Linked DNA regions of Homo sapiens. The protein of the gene in region 3 purifies or fractionates together with the protein of the main gene of each other region. This does not show direct contact. Each region holds a gene or a part of one and is shown on either strand. Other genes may lie near its edges.

What was found.
Region 1: the proteins of HPD (region 3) and PELI1 purify together in Homo sapiens (affinity purification with western blotting; one study listed by BioGRID). This does not show direct contact.
Region 2: the proteins of HPD (region 3) and ARFGEF2 purify together in Homo sapiens (affinity purification with mass spectrometry, with the first as the bait; one large-scale study listed by BioGRID). This does not show direct contact.
Region 4: the proteins of HPD (region 3) and ASPSCR1 purify together in Homo sapiens (affinity purification with mass spectrometry; 2 studies listed by BioGRID and IntAct, with this or other methods). This does not show direct contact.

The regions. Positions count from the first base shown.
Region 1 is NC_000002.12:64,095,921-64,099,420, reverse strand, and holds part of PELI1 (E3 ubiquitin-protein ligase pellino homolog 1), read left to right. Parts: intron 1-2,143; exon of another isoform or gene 2,144-2,359; intron 2,360-2,810; coding exon 2,811-3,008; intron 3,009-3,107; coding exon 3,108-3,296; intron 3,297-3,500. UniProt on the Homo sapiens protein: E3 ubiquitin ligase catalyzing the covalent attachment of ubiquitin moieties onto substrate proteins. Involved in the TLR and IL-1 signaling pathways via interaction with the complex containing IRAK kinases and TRAF6.
Region 2 is NC_000020.11:48,970,211-48,973,710, forward strand, and holds part of ARFGEF2 (brefeldin A-inhibited guanine nucleotide-exchange protein 2), read left to right. Parts: intron 1-909; coding exon 910-1,144; intron 1,145-2,115; coding exon 2,116-2,215; intron 2,216-2,934; coding exon 2,935-3,074; intron 3,075-3,500. UniProt on the Homo sapiens protein: Promotes guanine-nucleotide exchange on ARF1 and ARF3 and to a lower extent on ARF5 and ARF6. Promotes the activation of ARF1/ARF5/ARF6 through replacement of GDP with GTP. Involved in the regulation of Golgi vesicular transport.
Region 3 is NC_000012.12:121,856,060-121,860,057, reverse strand, and holds the start of HPD (4-hydroxyphenylpyruvate dioxygenase), read left to right. Parts: upstream 1-1,198; 5' UTR 1,199-1,234; coding exon 1,235-1,237; intron 1,238-1,344; coding exon 1,345-1,371; intron 1,372-2,219; exon of another isoform or gene 2,220-2,238; coding exon 2,239-2,301; exon of another isoform or gene 2,302-2,439; intron 2,440-2,625; coding exon 2,626-2,730; intron 2,731-3,411; exon of another isoform or gene 3,412-3,432; coding exon 3,433-3,475; exon of another isoform or gene 3,476-3,651; coding exon 3,652-3,734; exon of another isoform or gene 3,735-3,805; intron 3,806-3,998. UniProt on the Homo sapiens protein: Catalyzes the conversion of 4-hydroxyphenylpyruvic acid to homogentisic acid, one of the steps in tyrosine catabolism.
Region 4 is NC_000017.11:82,012,129-82,015,628, forward strand, and holds part of ASPSCR1 (tether containing UBX domain for GLUT4), read left to right. Parts: intron 1-27; coding exon of another isoform or gene 28-102; coding exon 103-155; intron 156-2,946; coding exon of another isoform or gene 2,947-3,228; intron 3,229-3,500. UniProt on the Homo sapiens protein: Tethering protein that sequesters GLUT4-containing vesicles in the cytoplasm in the absence of insulin. Modulates the amount of GLUT4 that is available at the cell surface. Enhances VCP methylation catalyzed by VCPKMT.

The DNA of each region.
Region 1 (3,500 bases), on a different chromosome or scaffold from region 3:
CCAAGAAAAACCGAACACAAAGCTTTAGGATGATTTTTCACATTTTGTTTCACTGACAAGCAGTGAAAATGAATGAGCTTAGCTTTTTTTTAAAATCAAGATGCTACTAGGCCTGTAGTCTCAGTTACTCAGGGGGCTGAGGTGGGAGGATAGCTTGAGGCCAGCCTGGGCAACATAGTGAGACTTCGTCTCTTTAATAAAATATAGATAAATATATATGTGTGTGTGTGTGTGTGTGTGTGTGTGTGTGTGTGTATCTCCAAGATATTTGGTCACAGGCTAGAATTTTAGCTTCAGAAAGTACGTTATATTTATTTGTTTACCGCTTATCTTTTGTAGATGAGGTTAACTGAAATCTTGTGAGTTAAAGATGATAGAGTTACTTGGGGGCAAAACTGAAATTAAACCAGGCATCCTGAATTCTGAAACAATGTCTTCACCATCTAATGAAGGCCCTTGAATAAGTTTTAACAGTTTGGGTTTTGTCTTTTTCATAAAGTAGAGAATTTTCCCCAGTATCATAAACTGATTATGCCCTTTCTACAGGTATTATACCTTTGGAAAATCCAAACATTTCTGCATCAAAAAGACTGTGATGTATCAGAAACTACCTTGATAAACTAGCCAGTCTTTGAGGAATTGTACTGGAAACATTCTAGGATTGTCTACCCTGTAAACTGAACAAGAACATTTATTGTTCAAGTCATCAGATATTCCAACTCCAACTCTATGCCTTGTTTGTCACTATGAAGTACATAAGGGAGACATTACAAGCTGATTACATGCCTAGGTGCTGTACTGACCCTGTAAATCTTAAGCACATTGATTGTGTTGAAGAAGGATGGAGAAAAGACTTTACACTGGTGCCTTTTCATGTAGATCTTTTTATCAGGTTAAGTAGGATTTTTGCCAGCAACCGGTAGAAAAGCATTCTAGCAAAAGAGATGGCAAAGAAGCAAAGAAGTAGTACACAGTGTGGTGAAAGATTGACGAATAAGCTGTTGTAGCTTGTATACACAAATAGCAGGAAATTCGGCTGGATTGGTAGATGGGAGGCAAATCTTGAGTCAGTTTCTAACTATTATCAGAAATAATAAACTACAAATTTTGGATAAGCTATAAGGAACCATTGAGTTTTCTCATGAGGGTAAGGGAGAGTAACAAAAGAGCTGTATTTTTAATGCTAATAATAGCAGGGGAAGAATTATTAACAATCATATTTTGGCATCTGATCACATTCATGGTGGTTTTTTTCTCTTTATAGATACTTAAGTTTCTTCCTTCTCATTGTCATTACAAATATTGCTTCAGTGTCTTAAATATTCTCTTCCAAGACCCAGTTGAAATGTCAGCTCTCTGGAACAGTCTCTTTCCAAATAAGTGCTACTTCTGTTGATTCTGAATATTAGTTCAATCCTTGGCCTATATCTTTTAGCTTTTAAAGAGCCTTTTTATTTGGGGGAATATTTTTTGTTTCAAAGATCTGAGGCCATTTAAGGTATCTTTATTTTTAAGAATAAAGAAAAGGAATATCCAATCTTATATTTGTTAACTAGTTTCCCTCTAAAACTATCCAATCTAAATAAAAAGACTTTATACTTGACAGTTGGACAAAAACACTAAAGAGGTTTATCTGAAAGTGTGCCGATATGAGGAACTTGAGGCTAAAATATGTAAAGAATGACTTTTAAGAGTCTTTATCTTTGTAGAGGGTCAGTATTTTTTCTCAGTACCCACATTCTTCAATTTTATGGTACTACTTTATAACAAATACATTCATGAACTGATAATTTCCAAATGTTTGCTTTAAAGCCCCGTGACACTTGTCACTTTTGTCATCTCCCCATTGATTTCCTTTTTTCTTTCAACTTTCAAAATGAAATTAACTTATTTACTAGCTAGTACCTCTGAAGATATTTTTAAATCTCTGACACCTCACTCATCCAGAACTCTTATCTGGGAACCTTGTCTCTCTGAAATATCCCTAAGAACCAGGAAGAGTATATATATAAAATAAATGCCACAAAGTTGATGTAGTGAAATTCCTTTTCTATTCTCCCTAGAGGATCCCTTAGGCTCTCACCAGAACCTTTTGAAATACTTTTCTCTGAAATAGGTTATTTGATTTCTCAACCCATAACAGAGTAAGAGTAGCCAGTTAAAAGAGGGGCTTGTTGCTGGAAACAAGCATGACCAAAAACAAGGAGTGATAGCTGACAACCTGACAGAAAAGAAACAAGAAAATATATGAAGTATACATAAGACCTCAAAGCAAGGCTGTGTAAGCCCTTGACATAAGGACCAGCAGCCTTGTATACCTCTTGTAGCACCTGAAGACATCACTGCATTTCAGCTTAACGTAAGTGGTATTTATAGTGTAATGTTCTGCAGTCATCCTAAAAGATTTACTTATATATGTTCACTATATTCTGTTAAATAAGGTAGAATATCTCTTTAAATATCTCTAAAGAGAAAAAAACTACATGATACACATATTTCCATCCAAAAGGGTTAAAATTAAAATCTGCAGCCATCTAGAAATCTCAGCCGTTCCTGAATTCTTCATTCCCTAAGGGTTTCGTATATTATTGTAAGTTCTCATTTAATTCCATGCTCTAAGTGATTACTTCATCAGAGACAGTCTGACTGATTAGTTTTCAAGAGTATAGATGCCCCCAGCGTTAAGTATGGTAAACTTCAACTTTAGAAATTTCAGAGACCTAATGTTCTCTCCTTATTGTGCCCTTCTTGAATGGATTTTCCACTGTGCTCTTTGAATGGGTTTATAGGTATTTTTTTTTTTCCCTCAGATTGGCCGGTCGACTGAAAGCCCCATTGATTTTGTAGTAACTGACACGGTTCCTGGAAGTCAAAGTAATTCTGATACACAGTCAGTACAAAGCACTATATCAAGATTTGCCTGCAGAATCATATGTGAACGGAATCCTCCCTTTACAGCACGGATTTATGCTGCAGGATTTGACTCATCAAAAAACATCTTTCTTGGGGTAAAAAGCTTTTTTTCTAAATGATGCTTTCTTTTATACTAGCTTTCATTCCAAGTTACAAGTTACAAGTTGGAAGCTCACTGCTATTATTTCTACTAGGAGAAGGCTGCCAAATGGAAGACATCAGATGGACAGATGGATGGCTTGACCACTAATGGTGTTCTTGTGATGCATCCACGCAATGGGTTCACAGAAGACTCCAAGCCTGGAATATGGAGAGAAATATCGGTGTGTGGAAATGTATTTAGCCTACGTGAAACCAGATCGGCTCAGCAGAGAGGAAAAATGGTAAATACTGAATGGTATTTTCTTAATTAGCTACAATAAACACATAGGATGAGTAGAACTGAATGCATTACATACATTCCAGAAAACTCTTAAATCTATTGCCAACACAGAATACTAAGTCTATCAAACACTGACTACCAAATTCTATACTAGAGGACAGTCTCTTTAATATTTCGTTTAGTAGCCGGGCGCGGTGGCTCACAC
Region 2 (3,500 bases), on a different chromosome or scaffold from region 3:
AAGCTGAGGCAAGAGAATCGCTTGAACCCAGGAGGCAGAGGTTGCAGTGAGCTGAGATCGTGTCACTGAACTCTAGCCTGGGCAACAGAGCAACAATAAATTTTAAAAAATAAAAATAGGCCGGGCGCGGTAGCTCACGCCTGTAATCCCAGCACTTTGGGAGGCCGAGGCGGGCGGATCATGAGGTCAAGAGATCGAGACCATCCTGGCCAACATGGTGAAACCCCATCTCTACTAAAAATACAAAAAATTAGCCGGGCATGGTGGCAGGCGCCTGTAATCCCAGCTACTCTGGAGGCTGAGGCAGGAGAATCGCTTGAACCCAGGAGACGGAGGTTGCAGTGAGCCGAGATTTGTGCCATTGCACTCCAGCCTGGACAAAAAGAGCAAAACTCCGTCTCAAAAAAATAAATAAATAAATAAAATAAAATAAAAATAAGTGTTAAGAAAATAGTTCATGAAAATGTACCATTTCTTACCATACCTGAACTCCGGCATGGGCAGTGGGGAGGGAGGGCTGTGAGGTAGGTGGATAAAGAGCGCCATCTTCATGGTGTGTGAAACAGAGTGAGCCAGGTGTCTCAGCCTCCCACAAGTGATGTAAAGTCATTGATTCTTGCAGTACAGTTGCAGAACTCGCTCTCCAGAATCAGTTGACACTTTGCTCCTGCTGTATTCTCTACTTTGTGATGGAAAGAGACAAATAGGAGTTGGCAGCTCTTGTTCTCAAAGGGCCTGCGATTCCAGAAGGACCCAACTCATGCCATCTGCCCTCATTCTCCTGACATTTAGGTGCTATTAATTCTTTAAAATTCTACTCATTGGTAAAGGAGCAAGGCCTTCTCAAGAAACATACTGTTTGACATTTTTTCTTTTAGCACTGTTGTGGTTTTTCATTTTCTTTGCCAGATCCCATGAGCTGCGTTCCAAGGTGGTTTCCCTGCAGCTGCTCCTCTCTGTGTTGCAAAATGCTGGCCCCGTATTCAGGACTCACGAGATGTTCATCAATGCAATCAAGCAATATCTCTGTGTGGCCTTGTCCAAAAACGGCGTCTCTTCAGTGCCTGATGTCTTTGAGCTCTCTCTTGCCATTTTTCTTACTCTTCTTTCAAACTTTAAAATGCACTTGAAAATGCAGATAGAGGTACGGATTCCAAAGTTTTTTCATTTCATTATTTACTATTATTATTAGTCATTAATTATAATACTCAATATTGAGAATGCTGCTAATATTACACTAAGCATTAGGAAAATGGTTCATGAAAATGTTTCATATCTTACCATCCTGGAACTCAGAAGTGGGCAGGGGCAGGGAGGGTAAATGGCATATTCATCGGCTGGCACCCCAGTAAATCAGAACTTTTTGAATGAGTAAGAGAATATCTTTTTATAAAAAGTTACTGCCCCCAGCCTGGGCGCCATGGCTCACGCCTGTAATCCCAGCACTTTGGGAAGCTGAGGCGGGCGGATCATGAGGTCAGGAGATCGAGACCATCCTGGCTAACATGGTGAAACCCCGTCTCTACTAAAAATACAAAAAATTAGCCAGGCGTGGTGGCAGGCGCCTGTAGTCCCAGCTACTCGGGAGGCTGAGGCAGGAGAATGGCATGAACCCGGGAGGCGGAGCTTGCAGTGAGCCAAGATTGCACCACTGCACTCCAGCCTGGGCAACAGGGCGAGACTCCATCTCAAAAAAAAAAAGTTACTGCCCCCGGATCTTATGTGCCTTTCATTTTAACCAATATGGTCTGTCTGCTGGGCTCAGCCCCCTAAACATATCTGTTTGGTCTGTAAATTGTTTGAAATCATTTAGATTAGTCGCCAAATTGAGAAATCCTATTTTACATGAAAATCCAGATTTCTGGTTTCTCTCCAAAAAGTCACAGTATGGGTCCTGCATTTCCACTTGGCAGCTCCCCAGTGGGCCCCACCCTGCCAGCCGTCCCCACCAAGGCCAGGGTCCCGTTGCTGCCCAGCCAGGTGGGCACTCCACTCTTCTTCTGCCCAGGGTGCTTTACTTACTGCACGACTGGGTTGGCTGCTGAAGACTTTGGAGGTTTTGAGCCCTGGTTGAAACTGTTAATTAGTGTCCTCCTTTGTCTTTATGTCATATAGGTCTTTTTCAAAGAGATTTTCCTGAACATTTTAGAAACATCAACAAGTTCTTTTGAGCACAGGTGGATGGTCATTCAGACTCTGACGAGGATCTGTGCAGGTATTTCCACCTGGGGACACTCATCCACTGGACTTCTGATGCTTTAATTTGCCACAGCTCAGATTAAGACTTCTAACCCCTCCTTTTAGAGTTTTAAAGGATTGGCAATAAAAGGCTAATTCTAACCTAGTCCTGCCCCACCTCTCCTTTTTTAGAGGATGACCAACTTAGGCTGGTTTGCCAAGGACTTCCTGGTTTTAGCACTAAAAGTCTCATGTCCCAGAAACCCCCTAATCTCGTCAAACTGGGACACTTGGTTACGTTACCTACAAGCTGAGTACTGTTAATCACAGGACCTAAGATACTGGTGCTGCCAATTTTTGATTGGGTGCTACGGTAAATGTGGATTTACCTTACACTATACAATTGTGTGGCCTCAAAGTAAGCATCCTGCTTGTCTGGCATCAAATGTAATTTTGTAAGAGTGACACAACTTTAAGAGGTGGGTCAGGCAATTGTTAACCCCTTCCTTGATGAGAAAATTGAGGCTTGGATGGGTGGAATGAACTGCCTGAGATTTCAATTTGCTCAGAAGCAGGCCTAAAAACAACCTCCTGTCTTCCAGCTTCCTAGTACTTCCAACATGTGTTTCCTGAGTGAGATGTGGCCACCGGAGTCTGTAGTTCACTGGGGAAATTTGTTGGCAAACATCTTGTTTGATAAGAAAACCTAACTGCTATTTGATCAGAATTTCTGATACTTGTATGTTATTTTCCAAGATGCCCAGTGTGTTGTGGATATTTATGTCAACTACGACTGTGATTTAAATGCTGCTAACATTTTTGAGCGCCTTGTAAATGATTTATCCAAAATTGCTCAGGGAAGAAGTGGACATGAGCTGGGAATGACACCTCTGCAGGTAAAAACACTGTGGACACTCAATTATATTAAAGTTTATTCATTCCAATAAACATTTATTGAGTGCCACCACATGCCAGGCACTGTCCTTGATACAGCAGTGAACAAAACAGGAATGCATATTCACACACTTCCTGCCATCATGAAACGACATTAAAGAAGTCAGTTCAGATGATCATAGGGGCTGCAGAGAAAAATAAAGCAGGGACGGCAGAGAGGAAGTGCTGAAGGTGGGGTGCTGTAATTCTTAATGGGGCCATTAGGGTAGTATCCCTTAGAAGGTGACCTTTGAGCTGAGACCCATAGGAAGCAAATTCATTCTCAGTCACCCTTCCAAAGATAGCGTGGAAAACAGGATCCCAGTCTGCAATAGGGGCAAAGGAGATTGGCTAGTAGCAGAATACCTCATTAGAGCACCTACAAAGAA
Region 3 (3,998 bases):
GTCCCCTGAGTAGCTGGGACTACAGACGTGCACCACCGTGCCCAGCTAATGTTTGTATTTTTAGTAGAGATGAGGTTTTACCATGTTGCCAGGCTGGTCTCAAACTCCTGGCCTCAAGTGATCCTCCCTCCTTGGCCTCCCAAAGTGCTGGGATTACAGGCGTGAGCCACCACCCCCGGCCCCCAGTTGGAAATTTAGACTTAAGGAGCTGAGGTGGACACTGGGAGCACACTGGGCAGGCCCAGGACAGGCAGAATAAGGGGGTGGGACCACCTTGCCTGCCTCCTGAATGGCCCAGAAAATAGAGAAAAGGAGGGAGAAGTGGTCTGCACTGGTGCAATGAGATCCAACTTCAGAATCAAACAGGCCAGAGTTTGGGGCTCTGCTCTTACCAGTTCCATGACCTGGGAGACATGTGTTCACCTCTCCAGGCCTCAGTTTCCCCATCTGATGGGGATATCAATATCTCCCATTTGTATAGAGGGCAATCTAGCAATTTAAAGTGTGGGTCCTGGAGTTAGAATAGCCCGGTTCATGTTCCAGTTCTTCCCTGCCGCTTGCTGACCTCATGGCCTAGGAATGTTCTCTGTCCCAATGAATTATAACCAACACTGAGAGTGTCCTGTGTGCCAGGTCCTGTTCCAAAGAGCGTGCTTATCTCCTTTAATCCCCACCACACTATTCTCATTCCTGTTTTACAAATGAGGCTCAAAGGGATATGGTGATTTTCCCAAGTCACACTGTATGTAACAGAGCCAGGATGCAAACCTTCTCCTGCCGTGCCTCTCAGAGCTATGGAATACAACGCTGTGACGCAAACAGGACTTTGGGGCCAGTCTCCAAATGCCCCCTCAAATTTCCTCTAGGCAAGAGTTCTGGAGCCGCCACTGCACTCCAGCCGGCCTTGGCTTCTGAGCTTTGGATTCTGGGCAGTAATGGTCACATTCCCAGCGTCCTGGAAAAGCTTGCCCTTGGCTTCTGGCCCTGACTCTGCCTCCCACTGACTAGTGGACGTCACTGCCCCTCTCTGGGCCTGGCAACACCATCCTGTTCAATGAGGCTGCGGCTGGATCAGAGGTCCCCAGGCCTGGAACCTTCCAGGGCTGGGCTCAGCTCCCCACCCCATCCCCCAGGTAGGCCAGGAGGCCTGGGCGGGACCTGCTTGGGGTTAAATACTCCGGCCCAGCACTCCCCAGGCCTCTAGTCCCAGTAGGAGGTTTGACTAAGATCAATCATGGTAAGTGCCATGGCCATCTCCCCTTGGGTGGGACATCTTCAGTAACGCTTCCAGAAGCACCTTGTGTTGGAACCTCCAAGTCTCACTGTCCTTCTTTTTCTCCTTAGACGACTTACAGTGACAAAGGGGCAAAGGTAAGCAGGCGAAATGTGGGAAATGTAGGGGCCTGAGTCTAGAAGGGGGTCGGAGTGCAGGGAGACTGGGGTTTCAGCAGAGAGCAGAAGAGGAAGGACTGGAGTGGATACATGACGTGCATGCCTGCACACTCAGCTTTACCCCCGGGGCTCCCCGAGACTGAGCTGGACTCAACCTCACCCTCACAACAAACTTGTATCCTGGCCGGGCATGGTGGCTCATGCCTGTAATCCCAGTGCTTTGGGAGGCCAAGGCAGGCAAATACTTGAGGTCAGGAGTTCGAGACCAGCCTGGTCAACATGAGGAAACCCCGTCTCTACTAAAAATACGAAAATTAGCCGGGCATGGTAGCGCACCCCTGTAATCCCAGCTACTCAGGAGGCTAAGGTGGGGGAGATCACTTGAACCCTAGGATCGCTTGAACCTGGGAGGCGGAAGTTGCAGTGAGCCAAGATTGCACCACTGCACTCCACTCCAGCCTGGGCAATAGAGCAAAACTCCATCTCAGAAACAAAAACCAAAACAAAACCTGTACCCCTTCTCAAATGCCTGCCAATCTTTTAATCCCATCTGGAAGTTCTTTCTAAGGTCTAACTTAAATCCATATTGCTGCAACATAAGTCTATTTCCCTGTGTGAAACCTTGGCAGGCCTCCTGAGGGGGTTTCCCCATCCAAGACACCCAGGAGCTCAACTTCCACATGAGAAACCTCTTTTGAGGCTTGGCAAGGCTGCATGGGGTTCCGCTGCTCCTAAGTTCTGTGGTTGAGGCTGGAATAAGGAGGGTGGCTAGGGGACATCACTCCACCCGCACTTTTCTAGACTCACTTTCAGGGACTCAACCTCACCTCTTCTCTCCTTCTGCAGCCTGAGAGAGGCCGATTCCTCCACTTCCACTCTGTGACCTTCTGGGTTGGCAACGCCAAGCAGGTAGAAGCCGGGGCAAGGTGCTGGAGTGAGCAGACGGCAGGGCAGAGGGCTGCCTGACAAGGGCAGGCCTCCAGCAGGGTCTGTGATTGGCCCTTGGGAGGGAGGATCAGGCCAGGGGTGGGCCAGATACTCTGAATCCTAATTACACCAGCGGGAAAGTTATCTGTCAGCAAAATGTGCAGGCAGCAGTCTATCTTCCCAGGAGGGTCTCTGCCCCTGAGGCAATAGGGCAGGCAGGCTGAGGGGGGCCAGGGGCTCTCTTGCGGAAGTCCCCCATGCTGGCCCCTTGACCCTCATGAACCCTGCTGCAACCCTGTGATTCAGGCCACGTCATTCTACTGCAGCAAGATGGGCTTTGAACCTCTAGCCTACAGGGGCCTGGAGACCGGTTCCCGGGAGGTGGTCAGCCATGTAATCAAACAAGGGAAGGTGAGTCACCACCCCCAGGACAGCCCCCAACCCCTGCCTGGCCAACATGGTGAAACCCCATCTCTATTAAAAATAGAAAAATTAGCTGGGCATGATGGTGGGCACCTGTAATCCCAGCTACTCAGGAGGCTGAGGCAGGCACATCGCTTGAACCCGGGAGGCAGAGGTTGCAGTGAGCCAACGTCGTGCCACTGCACTCCAGCCTGGGCGACAGAGCAAGACTCCATCTCAACAAAAAAAAACAAAAAACAACAAAAAACCCCAACAACAACAACAAAAACATATAATTCAGCTCCCACCGACCCCTCCGCTGGCATCTTTGTACAGCCATGCAACACGGCCCTTCCTAGTTTCGTTTCCTCCTCAGCCTGGCCCAACACTGACCCCACAGGTGCTCAGAAAACCTGGGATATCAGAGGAGAGGAATTTTAAGCAGTGCCCTGACCGATGGGGTCCCTGGAGTTCTCTCCCCGAGGGAGACCTGACCTAGCAGTTCCTCTGAGGATCCAGAGGGGGTCTGGCTGAAAGCCCCATCCCTCAGGACCAGTGTGGGAAACTAAGGCAGAGAAGGAGCTAGAACCCAGGTCCAGGAGTTCTTGTGCTCCATCAGGGGTGTTTCGGGTCGGCAGGGAGGGGCCGATGGGTGCACCTCCCCATGCCCCCCTGAGCCACTAGCCTCACCTCCTTCTCCTCCTATCTTAGATTGTGTTTGTCCTCTCCTCAGCGCTCAACCCCTGGAACAAAGGTGAGGTGCCCGGGGAGGGTGGACGCATGGCTCTGTGGGTGGGATCTGGGTTCTGGGAGGGTGGACGCATGGCTCCGTGGGTGGGCTCTGGGTTCAGGGCCTGGATGGAGACTAAAAGCCAGGTGAGGGGACCTAGACTCCAGACTCCAGTGCCATCCTCTCCCTGCCGGCCACAGAGATGGGCGATCACCTGGTGAAACACGGTGACGGAGTGAAGGACATTGCGTTCGAGGTGGAAGATTGTGACTACATCGTGCAGGTAAGAAAGCACCTGGGTGGACTGAGAGAGGAAGGCCTCCGTCTGCCATGGGGACCCCATCAGTCAGGGCTGGAAGGACACTGCTGCATCACAGTGACAAGCCCAGATGCCACATCACAGTGACAAGCTCAGATGCTGCATCACAGTGACAAGCCCAGATGCTGCATCACAGTGACAAGCCCAGATGCTGGTGTGACACACACCTGGGCTCCGGGGGTGCCCTGCCTTCCCCCGTGTCCTCTCTCTCACTGAGCCTCAGTTTCC
Region 4 (3,500 bases), on a different chromosome or scaffold from region 3:
CACTTGAGGCGTCACCCCCATCTGCAGGCCTGTCTTCCTTCGGGCGCATGGATGGGCGAGGTCCACGGTGCTTCCTAACACGTAGGTGCCTTCTCTCCTCAGTCATCACCCCTCCAAAAACAGTCCTGGACGACCACACGCAGACCCTCTTTCAGGTACCTGAGGGCCTCCCTGGGGTGCTGCGGGGCGGGGCCCTCCAGGGAGGGCAGGACGAGAGCGTGAGGCCTCGGGCAGGAAGGAGGGGCCTGGCAGGCGCTGGGGCAGGATAATAAAGCCTTTGAGAGCCGGTGGGTTCCGAGGGGGCCGTGCGCCTCTGAAGTTGCTTCTGACACGGCTTTCCGGCCTCCTCTGCTTCCTGCCTGGCCCCGGGTGGGAAAGGACCTGCTAGGCGGCCTGCCTGAACTGAGGCCGCTTGGAGGTCTCGGCCCCCCTGGGCTGCTGTGCTGGGGCCAAGGCGGCAGCAGTCCCTGCCCAGGGGTCTGGGTGAGGAAGGGCCCGGCAGGCCTCGGAGCAGGGCTCAGGGAGCCCCAGAGGGACCAGGCCCTCAGCTGGAGGCGGCCGCCTTGGGCTTCAGCTGCCCCTTCCCCCTGCCCGGCCTCTCCCGCTGGCCCCCCGGTCCCTGCTAGGAACGCCCTGGTGCCCATAGCTGTCCGCTGCTTCTGTGGGTCCCTGCCACCTCCCTGAGGGCTCCTGAGGGTGGGGCCAGGGTGAGGGTGCCGGGTTCCCAGCCCTGCTGGGCCGCCCTCCAGAGCCAGAAGCAATGAATGTCCTGTCCTTGGCCTGTGGGAGAGCTGCCTGGGGCCTTCCGAAGCCCTCTGGCCTAATGGTTTCCTCTTCAAAGCCTCTTCAGATATTTTAATTAGCCACAGAGGCGGGTTTTTTTTTAAGTGGCCACAGGCCTCTACAGAGGCCTGGGTTGGAGGTGAGAAGCTTGCTCACTGCCTGGGGCTGCAGCCGCTTACTGAGCTGGGGCAAGAAGGCTGGCAGCTGCCAGGGGTGATCAGGAGCAGGACTGAGCGGGATTCCCTGCAGCGGAGGCAGGGGAGGGGTGAGACAGTCCCCTCTCAGCCCCCGAGCTGCCGGGCGGACTCCGGGCCTCCTTCCTCCGTCTCCATCCCCTCCCTTGCTGGCCAGCCAGTTGATAAACATTGAATTTGGAAGATGCCTTGGGATGGAGGAGGACCAGTGCCCAGGCCTGCAGCCCACCCTCCCGCTGGGAGGCCCCTGAGAGCACTGGGGTGCTGCTGCCCTGTTTCTGGGGACGCTTGGCTTCCCTACCAGCCACCGTCTCCTGCCCTCCATCAGCTCGGCTCTAGCCTCGGGGCCTCTCGGGGTGGTGTCCCCGGTGACGTGCCTGCCTGCCTGCCTGCCGTCAGAGAGCTGGCGGGGCTGAGGGAAGGAAGCCTGCCTCCCTGGCAGGCAAGCAGGCGGCGGGCGCGGAAGCACCAGCTTTCACGTCTCTGGCAGAGCCCCACTCCGGCTGCCTGCTGCCTGGGGGATGTCCAGGGGCCGGCCCCCGGCTTCCGAGAGGGACAGCGTGCGTGGGTGTGGGGGCTCCGGTAGCCCGGCAGCCCTCTGTGGCCCTGGCCCAGGAGAGTGCAGGTTTTCTGGGAGGGCTGGGAGGAGGCGGCCAGGAGTGAGGACAGGGAATTGTGAGCAGTGTGGGGGCACCACTGTGGGGAACAAAGCCCCCCGCCCCTGCCTGAAACCTGCGTCCTGGCCCTGGGCATCAGGGCTGGCCCTGCCCTGGTGTCCTCACACAGTCACTTCTGTGTGCGGTCCGCGTCCTCAGGTCATGAGGAAGGTCACCCTGGGCTAGGCCCACCTTTGATGTCACGGTCACCTCACTTATCTCTTCAAAGGCTCTGCTGTTTGGGCTTCCTTCCATTGGCTTTGGCAGGGCAAGCCTGGCTCCTAACACCCTCCGTTTGTTGGAGCTCTCAGGCTGCCTCTGGGGACCGTCTGCCAGGACACAGGCCACCCTTGCTGCCTGGTTCCCCACTCCCCAAGCCACTCACCTGGCAGGGCGTGACTGGCACTTCTGGCCTGAGTGCCTGCTGGGCGCCCGCCCCTAGCCAGTTCTGTCGTCCTTCCTTTCCACCCAGGACAGCCCCGTCCTGCACTGCCGTGTCGCCCACTGCCGGGGCCTCTCTGGGACCAACAGGCCCCCTTCCTTCCACCCACCAGGCCCTACCCCACCTGGACCCTCTGAAATGTTCCTCGTTGACAAATGGTCTTGCAGAAGGCAGGATGGCTCCTGCAGCCCCCACTCCCGCTCTGTGGGTGGATGCCCCGTCTCTCCCTGCCCAGGCACCGTGGTGCCTTCTCTCTCCCGGGCACCGTGGTGCCACCTCCCTCCCAGACACCATGATGCTGCCTCCCTCCCGGGCTCTGTGGTGCCATCTCCCTGCCGAGGCACTGTGGTGCCGCCTTCCTCCCGGGCACGGTGGTGCCGCCTCCCTCCCAGGCGCTGTGGTGCCGCCTCCCTCCCGGGCGTCTTGAGCTGCAAGGGCTCCTCTCTTGGCTTCGTTCCCCGGAGGGTGGTGCTGTTCTCGTTGGAGGGGGCGGCCAGGCGCTGGGCCACGTGTGCATGCAGCCCCTACAGAGTTGCTGCCCCGTGGGGGTTGACGTGGGCCTCCTTTCGGAAGCTCTTCCTGGCAACACTGAGTGGGGCAAGGGGTTGGCAGCAGAGAGGCGGCTGGATTTGGGGCCCCAGTGTCCTGGGCGGCAGCTAGGGAGGGGCCGGCTCCAGGCCCTCAGGCTGTGTCAGGGCAGGGCGGGCACCCCCACTTCTCCCTGTCAGCCGAGGGAGCCAGGCAGGGGCAGCCTGAGACATCCTGGGACAGTGCTGGTGGGGAGAGGCCCCTCAGCCTGTGCCTCCCTCAAAGGCCCTTCCCGGGCCCTGCTCTGGCTGGGGGGACGGTGTGACCCACTTTCCCTTTCCAGCCCCAGCTTGGTGACCGGGTGGCTCCATTCACCCTGGGTCCCTCGCTGAAACGGTGCCTGGGACCAGAGCAGAGAACACGCTTGCCAGTGGTAGGAGATGGAGGCGACGTGGACTCTGGGAGGCTTCTTTTTTGGGGTCCATCCAGAGGCCGAGCCTCTCCAAGCACTGGTCAGCCTCCATGCCACCCAGTCTGCCGACCCTCCTCTCCACCATCCCCTCGTCCGAGCAGTGGCGATCCCTCCCGAGTCAAGGCTGGGCACAAGCACGTGGGGACAGGCCGGGTAGGCTGCCTGGCTCAGTGCTCCCTGCACAGAGGCGCAGACAGGGAGCCCAGGTGCCCCAGGCCTGGCTGCCAAGCCTACTTCCCTCTCCTGGTGTTCCCGAGTCCTGCCCGCCCCTTTCTGTGCGTCCCGTGGGGCAGTGCTGGTTGGGGGTCCTGGCCTGTGGGGGCTATGATGAGAACCAGGTGCCTCTCTGCATCGGTGGCCTCTGAGGGAGCCCTCTCGCCCGGCAGCAGGTGGGATGCAGATGGGGCTGGCCAGGGCTCCTGTGC